Linked DNA regions of Homo sapiens: region 1 is linked to region 2. Evidence: fine-mapped expression QTL. A gene starts in region 2. The other region holds a variant in brackets. All regions are shown on one strand. Distances are from middle to middle.

Region 1 (8,332 bases), 42 kb after region 2:
CCAAAAGTAAAATAAACAAAAGAAAATACAATTAAATTGGGCTATATCACAACGGAAATCTTTTGTGCTATAAGTAATACCATCAAGAAAGTTTAAAAACAACTCAGAATAACAGAAAGCATCTTCAAATCATGAATCTCATGAGAAAGTGGTATTCATAATATATTAATATAAAGAACTCTTAAAACTCAGCCGGGCACAGTGGCTCACGCCTGTAATCCTAGCATTTTGGGAGGCTGAGGCGGGTGGATCACCTGAGGTCAGGAGTTCCAGACCAGCCTGGCCAAGATGGTAAAACCCCGTCTCTACTAAAAATACAAAAATTAGCTGGGCATGGTGGCACATGCCTATAGTCCCAGCTACTCGGGAGGCTGAAGCAGGACAATCACTTGAACCCAGGAGGCAGAGGCTGCAGTGAGCTAAGATCATGCCATTGCACTCCAGCCTGGGTGACAGACCCAGACTCTGTCTCAAAAAAAACTCTTAAAACTTAATTATTGGCTGGACATGGTGGCTCATGCCTGTAATCCAAGCACTTTGGGATGCCAAGGCAGGTGGATCACCTGAGGTTAGGAGTTCAAGACCAGCCTGGGCAACATGGTGACACCCCATCTCTACTAAAAATACAAAAATCAGCCGGGCATGGTGGCGGGTGCCTGTATTCCCAGCTATTCGGGAGGCTGAGGCATGAGAATCGCTTGAACCCAGGAGGCAGAGGTTGCAATGAGTCAAGTTCACGCCATTGCATTCCAGCCTGGATGACAGAGCGAGACTCCAACTCCAAAAAAAAAAAAAAAAAAAACAAAAACAAAACAAAAAAAAACTATATATATACACATATGTGTGTGTGTGTGTGTATGAAATATATATATTTCATATATATACGAAATATATACATATATATATATATGAAACAACCCCATTTTAAAATGGGGTAAAGGATTTGTATAGATATTTCTCCAAAGACATACAAATGGCCAATAAGCCCGTGAAAGGATGCTCAACATCATTAGTCATCAGAGAAATATGCAAATCAAAACTATAATGAAGTACCATTTCACACTCGTTAGGATGTCTATGATAAAAGAGACAGGAAATAACAAGTGTCGACAAGGATGTGGAGAGGCCGGGCATGGTGGCTCACACTTGTAATCCTAGCACTTTGGGAGGCTAAGTCGGGCAGACTGCTTGAGCCCAGGAGTTTGAGACCAGCCTAGGCAACATGGTGAAACCCCATCTCTACAAAAAACACAAAAATTAGCCAAGTAGGGTGGCATGCCGCTATAGTCCCAGCTATTCCAGAGGTTGAGGTGGGAGGATCGCTTGAGCCCAGGAGGTGGAGGTTGCAGTGTGCTGAGACTGCACCTCTGCACACCAGCCTGGGTGGCAGAACGAGACTGTCTCAAAGAAAAAAAAAAAAAAGAAGATGTGGAGAAATTGGTGGTAGAAATGTAAAATAGTGCAGCCACTGTGGCAAACAGTTTGGCATTCTCTCAAAAAGTTAAACACTGAGTTACCATATGACCCAGCAATTCCACTCCTATGAATGTATCCCAGAGAAATGAAAACACACATCCATACAAAACCTTATACATGAATGCTTATAGAAGTATTATCCATAATAGCCAAAGACTAGAAATAATCGGAATGTATATAAACTGAAAAATAAATAAATATGTGTCCTATTCATACAGTGCAATATTATTCAGTCATAATAAAGAACAATTGATGTTGGGACTACCAGATATCTGTTGATCCATGCTACGGCATGGACGATCCTTGAAAGCGTCATGCTAAGCAAAAGACACCAGGCCAAAAAGGCCACACAGTGTGTGATTCCATTTATATGAGATGGCCAGAATAGGCAAAGCCATAGAGACAGGAAGCAGATTAGTGATTACTTCGGGTTGGGAAAGGGGGTAATGAGGAGTGACTACTAACTGGTAGAGTTTCTTTTAGAGGAGAGTAATAAAAATGTTCTAAAATTAGATTGTAGTGGTGGTTTTATAGCCCTATGCATATATATGCTTTTAAAAAAACACTGATTTGTATACTTTATCATTTTTTAATTTTTTTTTTTTTGAGACAAGAATCTCGCTGTGTCACCCAGGCTTGAGTAAAGTGGTGTGATCTCAGCTCACTGCAACCTCCGCCTCCCAGGTTCAAGAGATTCTCCTGCCTCAGCCTCCTGAGTAACTGGGATTACAGGTACACGCCATCACACCCAGCTAATTTTTGGATTTTTAGTAGAGACGGGGTTTCACCATGTTGGCCAGGCTGGTCTTGAACTCCTGGCCTCAGGTGATCCACCTGCCTCGGCCTCCCAAATGCTGGGATTACAGGCATGAGCCACCATGCCCGGACTGATTTGTACACTTTAAATATGTGAATTGTATGGTATGTGAAGTATGTCTCAATTAAGCTTTTTTAAAAACAGTATTGTGGGCTGGGTGTGGTGGCTCACACCTATAATCCCAGCACTTTGGGAGGCTGAAACAGGAGGATTGCTTGAGCCTAGGAGTTTGAGATCAGCTTAGGTAACATAGAGAGACTCTATCTCTATAAAATTTTTTTTAAAAATTAGCTGGGCATAGTGGCACACACCTGTAGTTCCAGCTACCCGGGAGGCTAAGGTGGGAGGACTGTTTGAGCCCACAAGTTACAGGCTGCTGTGAACTGTGATTGTGCCACTGCACTCCAGCCTGGGTGATAGAGCAAAACTCTGTCTCAAAAAAAAAAAAAACCACTGTGATCATATATATATATATATAAGTATGTAGGAGTGAGATAACATGAGGTTAAGATTTGCTTTAAAATATTTTTGTGAAAGATAGATGGCAAAAGCTTGTTAATCCTTGAATCTGGGTGATGGGTACTTGGGTATTTATTATACCATTCAGAAAATTGTCACAATAAAAAGTCAAGTTAATAAAATATTCCCTCTTATCATCAGACAGATGTAAGACCAGAATCTTTAAAAGCTTCGAGAAGGTAGGGTTAGAAGGGAACTTGGAGATCACCTGATGAAGTCATTCAGTTAACAGATGGGATCCAGAGATGGAAAGTGACTTTTTCAGGAATGAACAGAACATGGGGTGGCAGGAGATGAGCTGGAGAAGGACCTGTCCTCAGGGCTATTTCTTTTTTTGTGTTTTTTTCTCACTCCGTCGCCCAGGCTGGAGTGCAGTGGCACGATATCAACTCACCGCAATCTCCACTTCCCGGGTTCAAGCGATTCTCCTATCTCAGCCTCCCAAGTAGCTAGGACTACAGGCATGCACCACCACGCCCAGCTAATTTTTGTATTTCTTAGTAGAGACGGGGTTTCACCATGTTGGTCAGGCTGGTCTCGAACTCCTGACATCAGGTGATCTGCCCGCCTCCGCTTCCCAAAACACTGGGATTACAGGCGTAGGCCACCAAGCCCAGCCAGGGCTGTTTCTAACTAAACAAACGAGATCAATGACTCAGCAAGTGGCTTGGGGGCACTATGGAAGGCCTGGCACTTACTTGAGTTTCAGCTCCCTGGTGAGCTCATTCTGAGTCTGCTCTAGCTCTTGGCGCTCCTTGATGTGTTCTTCTTGGAGGTCATGGATCTCAGCCTTCACTGCCTGAAGCTTGGAGAAGAGCTGGAATGAGGGGAGAGGCAGGTGAGGAGGGTGTCTGTCCAAAGGGTAGAGTTCTCCCTTTCCCCAAGTCTCAAGGCAACTCCATCTGGCCTCATTCCTTTCATACCTTTTTGAGTTTTTTGGTCTTGATGTCCACCTCTTGCTGCAATGAGCTGTATGTCTCTTTAAGTTCCAAGGTCTCCTCATCTCGACTTTCCATCTGTTGCTGGATTTCTCTTTCTCGACGTTTCTGAGCAACATGACAAAATTCATCAGCTTGCCCTAGAGACTGTGTCTATGCTGGGTTCCCCAAGCTAGGATCAGAGTCTCCAGCTAGGATGAGGCAGACACACCTTGCTCTCATTCTCTTTGAAGAGAGTCTAATATGAGACGTTTGCTCTGCAGCATAAACACACCTTACCTCACCCATTCTCCCTGAAAAAGAATGAAAAGTTACCTGCTCTGCAATTTCCTGTCGTTTCTGCTCCAGGATTTTCTGCTGTTCATTCGTATGATCTACTATATTTTTTCCTCCAACAAGCAACTTACTCTCCATGGCCTGAGTGAGAAACAAAGTAGAATCCATCTCATGAACGGTTTCTCTCAGAACATAATTCCTCACAGGGGAGCCTGTGAAAGATAAAGAGCTCAGGACTGAGCCAAAAGGGACAAACTCTGGGAAAAAATACACTGTGCTCAGCTGTGCCCATCCATCACTGGTGAGGGACTGGGGCAGCTTCACTAGAGGCTTCTTGGTAACACTGAAGATACAGTTTCTTCAGATACATGAATTTCAGCTTTAACAAATTTTTTTTTTTTGCTTGTTTCTACAAAGTATTAACCCCACTTAGAACATATTAAGCAGACCCTTTATGTTAGGTCCTGGGGATGCAATGTGAGTGTGAATCACAAAGCTCCGAGTCCACTGAGGAAAACAGACAAGCAAGCAGGCTTTAACCATATGG[C/T]GCCAGATGCCATCATGAGGAAAGGACACAGTAATTCATGGGAGAGGCACACTGATGGGATAGAATTCAGACTCTGTGGGGATTTTTTAAAATTTTTTAAAGACAGGGTCTAGTTCTGTCACCCAAGCTGGAATGCGGTGGCACGATCACAGCTCACTGCAGCCTTGACCTCCTTAGTTCAAGCAATCCTCCCACCTCAGCCTCCCAAGCAGCTGGGACTACAGGTGTACACCACCACACTTGGCTGATTGGTTGATTGACTGATTGATTGTAGAGGTGAAATCTTGCTATGTTGTCTGGGCTGGTCTTGAATTCCTGGCCTCAAGAGATCCTCTGCCTTGGCCTCTCAAACTGCTGGGATTATAGGCATGAGCACAGCGCCCAGTCAGAGAATTCAGACTTTTAGAGGGAGTCAGAGAAAGCTTTCTGTCTGCAGGGCCAGATACACAGACAGCTGAAGTTAAAAAATAGGAATTAGGTAAGAAAAAAAGATTGTTTTGTGAGGGGAAGGTGGGAAGTGATGAAGTTGACCTAAATCCCTGTCAAGGAGACTAAACTTCTTGATCCTGAGAAGTTCGGGGAACCACTGACATATTCTTTTGAGCATGAGGCTACACAATCAGATGTGTGTTTTAGAAACATTACTCCCCTGCAATGGGAAGCATGGCAAAGGACTGGCAGGATGGAGGGAGACATGACAGGAAGCCACTGCAGGGGTCTAGGCCTGGGCTAGGCCTCCTCCCTAGTTGGGGAGGGCAGAGTAGATGAGTCCAAGAGACCCTGATGAGGCAGGATCCAAAGGCTTTGGGACGGCCTGGCTGTAAGTGAGAGGGAGTGGCTGCTGGCAAGGATAACTCCCAGGGGTCTGGCTTCCCTGAGATAAGGAAGGCAAGAGCAGGCTCTGAGTGGCTGTGAGCATCCCAGTGGGCAGAAGGTTATTGGGCCTGGATGGCAGGAGACAGTGCTAGGCTAGACATACAATGGGCCTGGATGGCAGGAGACAGTGCTAGGCTAGATATACAGATTGGGAGCCTTCAGCATTTTGATAGGGGCTGAAGCCATGAGAATGATTTTGACCTAAAAAGTATGGGACCCCAAAACTGCACAACTTTTAAGAAACTTATAAACCTCACTGGAGCTCTGCTGCCATCTTTCAGTGAGTCCTCTGAGCCTGTTTCCTCACCTCTCGAATGAAGGGGCTGGACTAGATTGCTAAACTCCACATACATACCTAACAATACCTAACCACTCTAACATTCTTTTTTTTTTTTTTAGATGGAGTCTCGCTTTGTCGCCCAGGCTGGAGTGCAGTGGCATGATCTTGGCTCACTGCAACCTCTGCCTCCCAGGTTCAAGCAATTCTCGTGCCTCAGCCTCCCAAGTAGCTGGAACTACAGGTGCATGCCACCACACCCAGCTAATTTTTGTATTCTTAGTAGAGACAGGGTTTCACCATGTTGGCCAGGCTGGCCTTGAACTCCTGACCTCAAGGGATCCACCTGCCTGGGCCTCCCAAAGTGTTGGGATTACAGGCGTGAGCCACCGCGCCCAGCCTCTAACATTCTTTTATGATTTCACAGCATCCAGGGATTGAGAAAGACAGAAATAATGTCATTCTCCATAGTCAAAATGTCTAAGAGATGCAGTGACCTTAAGATGATGCTGAATCTTGCAGACTCAGCCTCTGAGAGTTCAACTTTCTCTGAGGGGTTGTTTAGAGAATCTAGGTGCTCCTGGCCTTGAATAACAGATCTGATCCTAAAAGACAGTATGCAAGTCAAATATGGGCATACCCAGGCCGGACATAAGGGTGCGGTGGCTCACGCCTGTAATCCTGACACTTTGGGAGACTAAGGTGGAAGGATTGCTTGAGTCTAGGAGTTCAAGACCAGCCTAGGCAACATAGTGAGACCTTGTCTTTACAGAAAATCAACAAAATTAGCTGGGCATGGCAGTGCACACCTGTAGTCCCAGATACTCGAAGGCTGAGGTGGGAAGATTGCTTGAGCCTGGGAGGTCAAGGCTGCAGTGAGCCAAGATCACGCCACTGCACTCCAACCTGGGTGACAGAGTGAGACCCTTTCTCAAAACAAAACAAAACAAAACAAAATATGGGCACAGCCAGTCGCGCTTACTGTGCAGCAGTGAGAAGGCATGAAGTGCTTTGACATAATGGCATCTCAGAACCCCTCCCTGGAACAAAGTTACCTCCTAATTGTGTTGTATACGACTCCATTTTCACATCAGGTCTTAAAAGTGCTAGAAGGGACTTTCAAGGTTTTAAAACCCTGCCTCTGAAGTAAAATAGCACCCAGCTCTGTGAAAGGGCTACTATGAAGCCACTGATTAAAACAAACAAACAAAAAAACAGTACAGCTTCATACAGTAGGGGTAGGAGGGAGGCAAAGATAACTTGTAATTTTAAAATTTATAAACATGGAGACATTTTAGGATAGAAATCAAAGTTTGCATGAATTCAATAAAACAGAACTGAACATTTCCAAGGAATTCTGCCTTGTGGTTAGCCAGTGGCCATCCTCAGCCTTCCAAGTCTACCTTTGCACTCTCCTCTGCCATTAAAGCCCAGTGGAAGCTCAGAGTCCAGGCAACTGCAGGCATAGTGCATTGCCACCAGAAAGAAGGCTCAAAACAATGGGAGCCTCAGCACTCCAGAATGCTAACTAGCCATTGGGTGGAAAATGGAATGGATGTAAAGAAATATATTAGCACACAGGGGTTGGGAGAGGAGGCTGACTATAAGAAAGTAGCATGAGGACATTTTGGGGGTGATGGAAGTGTTCCTTATCTTGTGTAATCAGGGTACTGCATACTGAAACTGCACTGAGAGGCTATACTATATGCAAATGTTAGTCTGATCATCACAAGTGCTGGTAAGGATGCGGGGCATCCAGAACTGATACCCTGCTGCGAGGTGTTTCAATCTGCACAACCACTTTAGAAAACAACTTGTCCTTGTCTAGAGAAGTTGAAGCTGCAAATACCCTAAGACCTAACAGTGCCAAACAAGACAATCTTGCACGTCCATGTTCTCCTGAAGCCAAGCACAAGAGCATTCACAGCAGAAACTGGAAACAACCCATACACCAGGAGAATGGAATACCATGGAATACTTGGAACAGTAATAATGAGTGAACCACAGCTTCAGGCATCAACATGGATAAATCTCATGAACGTAATGTTGCAAAAATAAAAGCAAATGGCATGAGTGGGATTCCATTTACATAAAAGCAAAAAATTATATGAAAACGAAACCATGTTTTCTTTAGAAATATACATGTAGAAAGTAAAACTATAAGGAAAAGCAAGGAAACAATAAACACCGAATTCAGGATGATGGTTATCTGTTGGGGAGGGAAACGCAAGGAGCTACTAAAGATATAGGTATCAGCTGGGTGCAGTGGCTCACGCCTGTAATCCCAGCACTTTGGGAGGGGGAGGTGGGAGAATCATTCGAGCCCAGGAGTTTGAGACCAGCCTGAACAACATAGTGAGACCATGTCTCTACAAAAAATTTAAAAAATTTAGCCAGGCAAAGTTGCGTGCCTGTAGTCCTAGCTACTTGGGAGGCTGAGGTGGGAGGATCCTTTGAGCCTAGGAGGTCAAGGCTGCAGTGATTGGGCCACTGCACTCCAGGGTTGACAGAGCAAGATCCTGTCTCAAAAAAAAAAAAGAAAGAAAGAAAAAAAAAAGCCGGACACGGTGGCTCACGTCTGTAATCCCAGCACTTGGGGAGGCTGA
Region 2 (8,332 bases):
TTTAAACATTAAGAGGACTGGTTTTTTCTTTTGTTTTGTTTTTGAGACAGAGTCTCACTGTCGCCGCTGGAGTGCAGTGGTGTGATCTGGGTTCACTGCAACCTCCACCTCCCGAGTTCAAGTGATTCTCCTGCCTCAGCCTCCCGAGTAGCTGAGGTTACAGGCATGCACCATCACCATGCCTGGCTAATTTTTGTATTTTTAGTAGAGACGGGGTTTCACCATGTTGGCCAGGCTGGTCTCGAACTTCTGGCCTCAGGTGATCCGTCTGCCTCGGCCTCCCAAAGAGCTGGGATTACAGGCGTGAGCCACCGTGCCCGGCCTGGGACTCTTAAAAAGTTCCCCCTCACCTACCATCCAGTCCCATTCAAAGAAATGGAAAATTCTAAAACAAAAAACACACACAAGATACTCAAATTGCATATCACATTCTCAACAAGTCCTTTTTCTTTTTTTCTTTTTTTTTTTTTTTTGAGACGAGTCTTGCTCTGTCACCCAGGCTGGACAGTGGCATGGCCTTGGCTCTCTGCAACCTCCACCTCCCAAGTTCAAGTGATTCTCCTGTCTCAGCCCCCTCAGTAGCTGGGATTACAGGCGTGCACCACCACACCCGGCTAATTTTTGTATTTTTAGTAGAGACTGGGTTTTACCTTGTTGGCCAAGCTGGTCTAGAACTCCTGACCCTGTGATCCACCCACCTCGGCGTCCCAAAGTGCTGGGATTACAGGCGTGAGCCACAGCGCCCAGCCTCATTATTTTTTTAGAGTCAGGGTCTCCCTCTATCACCCAGGCTGGAGTGCAGTGGTACAATCAATCATTGGGCACTGCAGCCTCCAACTCCTCGGCCTAAGCTATCCTCAGCCTCCTGAGTAGCTAGGACCACAGGTGTGTACCACCATGCCCAGCTCATTTTGTTGCTGTTGTTGTAGAGACCGGGTCTATGTTGCCCAGGCTCATCTCGAATTCCTAGCCTCAAGTGATTATTCCACCTCAGACTCCCAAAGTCTCGCAAATCCTTTTTCACATGTATAACAGCACCACAAAGTAATTCCTACTCATAGGCTGGGCGCGGTGGCTCACGCCTGTAATCCCAGCACTTTGGGAGGCCAAGGTGGGCGGATAACCTAAGGTCACGAGTTCGAGACCAGCCTGACCAGCATGGAAAAACCCCATCTTTACTAAAAATAAAAAATTAGCCGGGTGTGGTGGCAAACAAACGAAAAACAAACAAACAAAGTAATTCCTATTCATATTACTATTTTTAATGAAGAGCCTTAGAAGAAAAAGAGGAATAACTTACCCTGATAACCTGGCTTGAAGTTGAGTCAATGATAAAACAGAAATAGCAACCTCGATGTTGAAGTTCAGACCACGGTAAATTCGAGAATCTAAAGAGACTTAACAGTGGACCCCAAATTCCTAAAGTCAACTAGTAAGAGCCAACAGAACTTTGAGACAAACAGATTTCATAATTCTGTCAAGACATAAATAACACAAGACTTAAAAGTACTTTCACCTACCTCTAACAAGTAAAACTCTGGCAAGCAAATTTCCTTGGGTGCCCAGGGTCATAAACACCCGCATAACAGGAACGCCAAGGAGAATGTCAATGAACACACAAAACTCATTGTCGAGGAGGAGAACGAGAGCTCTCTCCCACTCCCCATCAGGCCTATATTTGTTTCCAGGTGCAGAACCGTTAGAGAAATCCTGAAATTTCTACAAGATCCTGAAAACTAGCCCAAGCTTCCAATTTTGACTCAATCAGAAAAAAAATATTTCGGAACCTCAAAATCTTCAAACTTCACATGCCAGGCCAAAATAAACTGAAGCACAAAACTTCAGCATACAAACAATTGCTATTTTTGTTCCCTGGGCAACAAATGACTAGGGAAGAGGATAGCAAGCACCAATGAAAATTCTGTAGCCCAAATTCCTTCAGTTTTTATAAATCTGTAACTTTTACAGACTTCGAGAAAGAAAAAGGTGTACTTCAGGTTTGTGTCAACCCCCCCAATACAGTCTATTTTTTTTTTTTTTGCACAACACCTTTGAAGCAGAAAACTCACTTCAAAATAAGAGAGAAAATTAAGTCTGAGCTTCACTCATCATTAAAACTGAATTACAACCATTACATATAAACTACAGTGTCAAGAGACACTTATGCTATCCGCACCACAACCTCGCTGTGTGACAGATCTTAGGAACTGACATCTTAGTATAACCTGTTACTACTGGTATCAGCAGATAATTACCCGAATATGTCTCAAAGTGTCTGAGCTTTGTGGGAGTAATCCAAAAGGAAGCTATTTCACCTGCAAGTCCTCTGACGCTCTGAACACAAAATTCACAACCCCCATCGGTTGAACGAGACGGCTTCAAACACTCAAGTTACGCTCTCCCTTGCTAAATCCTCAGTGAACAACGTCTCCCAACAGAGATACTTTGTCTTTGTCCAACATACATTCTTTGCAAAGTGGATTCAGTTCTCCTCAAAATACCAATTTCCAGTCCAGCTTCTGAAGGCAAACAGCCCAGTCTGCGTTTCTCAAAGTGGGGTCCGTGAGCCACTGCGTTTGAATCACCTGGGAAGCTGGTGAAAGCGCAGATTCCCAGGCTCTATCCCAGACCCTGAGGCTCAGCAGGTCTTACGAAGGGCCCTAGGAGTAGCGTTCCTAACCGCCTCCCAGGTGTCGCCCACAGGACACTAAAGTTAGAGAACCGCTGCTCAGGGTTCAAGCTGGGAGTAAGCACTTGCTTCCCTCCACGCACCTGGTTTAGATTGGGAAAGCTCAACATGCCATTGGCGTCCTTGAATGTGGGGTCGCTTTTCCACCCCCGGAGTCAAAGGCACCACCCCATTACCCACCAGGAAGCGAGGGAGGAGCTTCCGACCCTTCCCGGAAACCCAACTCCCCCGGGTGAATGAACGAAGCTGCCCCAGACCCCCAGACGCTGCCAAATAGTGGGGGAGGGGACGCGGGACCCCGCTGCCCAGAGTGGGAGGAGCCGGCCTGCCAGCTCGCCCCTCCGCCGGAATTTAGCTGCGCGGGGCGGGGGGGGCGCGAGGGCGAGCGGAAAAAGGCGCCACATCCCATCCCGGCGGAGCGCTCCCCACCCCTCGCCTTGCGGGGCTGTCCCGTTCTTAAAGGAAGATGGCCCCGCCCCCTCCCGCGGTGGGCAGGGCCTTGCCCCTCCCCCCCCAGTGGGGGGGTGCGCGGCGAGCCCCCCCCACCCCGGGCCCCACGGAGCCCCCCTCGGCTGTCCGCCTCACCAGGCGCGCGGCCTCGGCCCACGTGCGCTCCTTCTTCTTCTTCTGTTTGTCCTTCATCCTTCTCCCCGGCGGCGGCGGCAGCTCCACGCGGGACCTCCGGGCTGGGCGGGCTGGGGCGGTGGCGCGGGGCTGGGGCGGCGGCGGCGGTGGGGGGGGCGCGTGGCAGCGGCGGCGCGCGAGGTCTCGGGTGCGGCCGGGGAGAAGGGGCGGGCACGCGGGGACCGGCTGGCGCGAGAGCGGCGGTGGGGGAGGGGCGGCGGCGGCTCCACGCGCCCGCGCTGCGTCAGTCGCCCACGGCGGCAGCGGCGGCTGCCCCGCGATCGCTAAGGAATGCGGCGGCTCCGCATAACCACGGGGTCAGAGGTCACGGCTCCGGCCTCCGCTTTCCCGCTCTGCTGAGGGACTGAGACAGGACCGACGGCGGGGCGGGAGGGCGAGACGCGGCTTTCCCTTCGGCGCCCGGGTGCGTGCGTGTCTGCCGTGGGTGTGTGTGAGTGTGTGTGAAGAGTGAGGAGGGGGAGTGTGGGGTTTTTTTTTTTTGAACAAAAACAAACCGAAAGGGCGCCTGGGAGTCGTAGTCCCAACGGCCTCTCTGGCCTCCCCCGCTCCGGAAGAATATGGCCGCGTGAAGCGCGTGGACCACACTTCCCGGCGTGCCCGGCGGCCCCCTTCCGCTCTCCCTCTCGCGTCCTCCGCCTAGCACCGACCTCAGCTAGGAACGGGGACGGGTCGCTGTTCGGGGAAGGGGCTGGGTGGAGTCTCGCGAGGTGCGAGAACTGGCTGGGGGCCTGCGGGATTCTGGGAGGCGATGCTGGGAAGGGGCGGTGGCTGGGCTCCCCCGGCCACCCTTAACCCCTTCGGTGCTTTTTGCTTCAGGACCTCCTGGCGGGTGCGGGTGGGGAGTGAGGATGGGGAGCTCGACTCGCAGTTCCCACTTCGTGCTTCTCCTCGCCTAAACGGTTCTTACCTACACTTCTCGTAGGGGACGAGAGGCAGGACTTTCCCTTTTGGTCACCTCTAAATGACTCACTGCCACATAATAATGAGACAAAAAGACCCTCATACCAGTAAAACGGTTATTCCACGGCTGATGGACTTAGACGGTTCTTCATTTCTTCCTGTGCTTTCAGGCCGCTGTGTATTTGCAGAGCCTGCACCAGCAGCCTAGAGCGTTCTTAGGAACTTGGTGATATGTTGACGGGTCGTGTAAAGAACTTGGACTCTGGGGCCATACTGACCAGAATGCACCTGAGGGCGTTTTTAGAGGCAGTACCCTGGAGAGAATTCAGGCCCTGGAGTCCAGCGGACCTAGACTGGAATCTTGGCTGAGTCACTCCCTGGCTGTCCACTCAACCTCTCTGAGCCTCAGTTTTCTGATCTGCATTTGTCTTGTATTTCATGGCATTATTGGAATTAAAATTAACATACAATTCTTGACAGATTGGAAGAGGATGTGAAGGGAGATCTTGACATTATCAGGTCCGTATGATATGGCGCCTGGCATAGAGCAAATGTTTAATAAATGGTAGCTGTTATTACCAGCTGAGAAACAATAGGCAATATACTTAGCCTCTCTGAGCCTTAGTTTTAGAACCTGAAATGAAATTCAGAGCGCCCAGCACATAGGTTTTCTGTAACTATAGGTTCAGTCGTTGTCCAGAAACATTTCTAGAGTCCGTCCGGAGTTGGATTGATGCCAGCTCTTAAAAACTATGAAGGCAGGATCAGTGGCCACATTTAAACGGTTTCCCTGGGTGAGGAAACACACTCTCCACTCCCTAATGTTAACACGTAGCGAGAGCCAGTATTGATAGGAGACCATTATGGTGTAGCCCAAACTCTAACGCCAAGGGGTTCAGTGTTTTCTGCTTCTAATACTGGTCACAGAAAACTTGTGAGTCCGGTAAGCAAAATCCTACAAAGGGAAAAGACTGCAAGTTAGAATAAGACACCTCTTAAAAATCTCTCTAGCTTTACCCTGAGAGAAAGGAGGAACTACTGTCCCTCAAAAAACTGTTTGCCTTGATTTTTTACAAAGGATTTTTAACTTCTTTTTTTTCAATCTACGGCTGATACAGTACTCTTTGGCAAGTCATTTGGCTTCTTTCCGATGTCTTCTGAAGTAGCTTTACTGCCCTCTGACCTACAGGGAATAACTGAAATTTACATGTTTAATACAGGTACTGTGGTAGACAGAATAATGTCTTCCCCGCTTGCCCAAAACTGTCCAAGTCCTAGTCCCTGGAACCTGTGAATATGTTGCTTTTTTATTTATTTATTTATTTATTTTTTGAGACAGAGTCTCGCTGTGTTACCCAGGCTGGAGTGCAGTGGCGTGATCTTGGCTAACTGCAACCTCCGCCTCCTGGGTTCATGCGATCCTCCTGCCTCAGCCTCCCAAGTAGCTGAGATTACAGGCATGCGCTACCATGCCCAGCTAATTTTTGTATCTTTAGTAGTGACTGGGTTTCTCCATGTTGGCCAGGCTGGTCTTGAACTCCTGACCTCAGGTGATCCACCCATCTCGGCCTCCCAAAGTGCTGGGATTACCAGCCAGCATTCTTTGGCAAAAGATATTTTGCCAATGGAAATAAAGCCCTTAAAATTAGATGATTCCGTATTATATGGGTGAGCCCAGTGTAATCACATGAACCCTTAAAAGCACAAAAGGGAGGCAAAAGAGATGTTTTGGAGAGATGAGGCAGAGGAATTAAATTCAAAGTATGAGAGGAATTCAACCCACTGTTACTGGCTTTGAAAGTGGCCACAAGCCAGGGAATCCAGGCAGCCTCCAAAAGCTCAGAGGAAGTCCTGCCAAGAGCCAGCAAGGAAATGGGGACTTCAGTCCTACAACCTCACAGAGCTGAATTCTGACAAGCTGAATGAACTTGGGAACAGATTATACCCCCTCCCCAACTCTCTAGAAAGGAATATAGACACCTTGATTTCAGCCTCGTGAGACTGGAAGCAGAGAATCAGCTGAGCCATGGAATCCAGACGTCGGGCCCACAAGAAGCGTGAAACAGAAATGAATATTGTTTTATGACACTAAATCTGTGGTAACTTCTTACAGCCCCAAAAGAAAGCTAATACAGGCATTATGGAAACACCTTTATTTCTTTCAGCGAACACTGCCTGACTTCAGCTGGGTCAAACCATGGGGGAATCCAGATTTGAATATTTCAAGGTCTCTGCCCTTGCAGAATCAGACAGAAACAAGTGACAACATCGTAGTTAAGTGTGAAAACAGTATGTTCAGAGAACGGTACAGATATGTTAGAAAGTTGGCTTTAGTCATTAAACCTTAAGTAGATGTGATTTTTTTAAAGTTAATGAGATTCATGAGTTTATTTTCTTGTCAGAAGCACCAACAGACAAACCTATACATTTTTGGTGTGTGTTTTTCTGTTTTTTAATCACAGTGCTTTTATTATAGATTATCTTCAGAAGTTAGTGCAGGTGGCATGTGGAAGATAAACAGGACAGACACTCAACCCTGCCTAGTTTGGGGATGAGTCACTTTTCAAACTGCACAGTTATAAGCAAAGTGCATATTCAAGAACCAAGTTAACAGGCCACCAGCAGACACCCAGGAATTCCCAAAGGGACACATATATCCCATAAACTGCACTGCAAGATAATATATTCTCATTGGCTCTGCATGTCAGCAGGCCTGGGTTTGAATCTCTGCAGTCTTTCTCCATCCAGTTCTGTGGCCTTGGGCAAGTTATGAAACCTCTCACTGACTCAGTGCCGTCATTTGGACAGCAGGGTACATAGCAAATTCAAAGAATGGAACTGAGATTAAATGAGATCTCTGTAAAGTGCCTAGCACATAGCAGATACTCACTAAATACCAGCCCTCTTTGCCTCCAAAAAGTTTTAGTGTCTAAAGTGTAAAAAGTGCCTCATTGTTTATACTTTGAGTGAAAGAAACCTTGGAACAGGGTTTGCCCCTGTAACAAATGTTCTCTCTCAATAATATTATCCCCGTTTTCACATGAAGCTGAGATTCAGAGAGGTCAGATTACCTCCCTTGGGTCCAGATGATTAAATAAGATTACATTTGCTAAATAAACTTCCAGCATAGCAGATGATCAGTACATGTATAGCTCTCCTTGTCCCTCCCACATTTAATTTATTTGTGTGACTTTGGTTTAGTGATTGTGTTCATGCTAGCATCTTTGGTTTCATCATCATATCCCCAGTGCCTGGCACAGTCTTGGCACATGGTAGGCACCCAATCTGTTGAATAAATGACCCGATCTCCGTAATTACTTTACTGGAGAAACTCTGAAGACTAATTTCCCTTTGAGCCCTAAACAATGTTTGGAACCTGCTCAGGGAGAATCGGGAAAGACCAAGACAGGATTTCACCCAAATATATCTATGCAAGTTATAAAGATGCTCATGGATAGAGAGCATGACTTCAGCTGGGCGTGGCAGCATGTGCCTATAGTCCCAGCTACTCAGGAGGCTGAGGCAGGAGGATCATTTGAGCCCAAGAGTTTGAGGCTGCAGTGAGCCATGGTTGCGCCATTGCACTCCAGCTTGGGTGACAGAGCAAGACCCTGTATAGGAGACTTCATGACCTTATTATTGTCATTAAGTCACAGAATCTGCCCATGTGATGGGCAGCCCTAACTCATAGCTCACCTTCCATTCACCATCGTTTAAATCCTGCTGTTCAGTCTCCCAGTAGGGAGGAAAACGTGTTTAAATTACCAAAATGTCTTTTTCGTTTGTTTGAGACAGGGTCTCTCTGTTGCCTACACTGGAGTGCAATGGTGCAATCTCAGCTTATTGTAGCCTTGACCTCCTGGGCTCAAGTAATTCTCCCACCTCAGCCTCCCAAAGTGCTGGGATTGCAGGCATGAGCCACTGTGCCTGGCAACAAAATGTCAATAATGGTTACCTCTGGGTAACCATCAGACTATGGCAACTTTTGATTGTCTTTTTTTTTTGAGACAAGGTCTCACTCTGTCACCCAGGCTGGAGTGCAGTAGCATGATCATGGCTCACCGCAGTCTTGACCTCCTGGGCTTAAGCCATCCTCCC

What was found. PIP is the estimated chance that this variant, and not a neighbour inherited with it, causes the effect.
Region 1: its variant is fine-mapped to the expression of ASXL1 in whole blood (INTERVAL, PIP 0.98).

The regions. Positions count from the first base shown.
Region 1 is chr20:32,312,053-32,320,384 of GRCh38, reverse strand. It overlaps KIF3B (kinesin family member 3B), which reads right to left. Exons shown (of 9, transcript NM_004798.4): 3 at 4,066-4,167; 4 at 3,736-3,858; 5 at 3,511-3,629. Among named protein-coding and RNA genes, the nearest start is that of KIF3B, 39 kb to the right of the region's middle. The variant C/T (reference allele first, on the strand shown) is at 4,574.
Region 2 is chr20:32,353,775-32,362,106 of GRCh38, reverse strand. ASXL1 (ASXL transcriptional regulator 1) reads right to left here and starts at 3,776. Exons shown (of 13, transcript NM_015338.6): 1 at 3,275-3,776. The coding sequence starts at 3,331. RefSeq lists silencers at 3,077-3,236, 3,477-3,526, 6,475-6,544.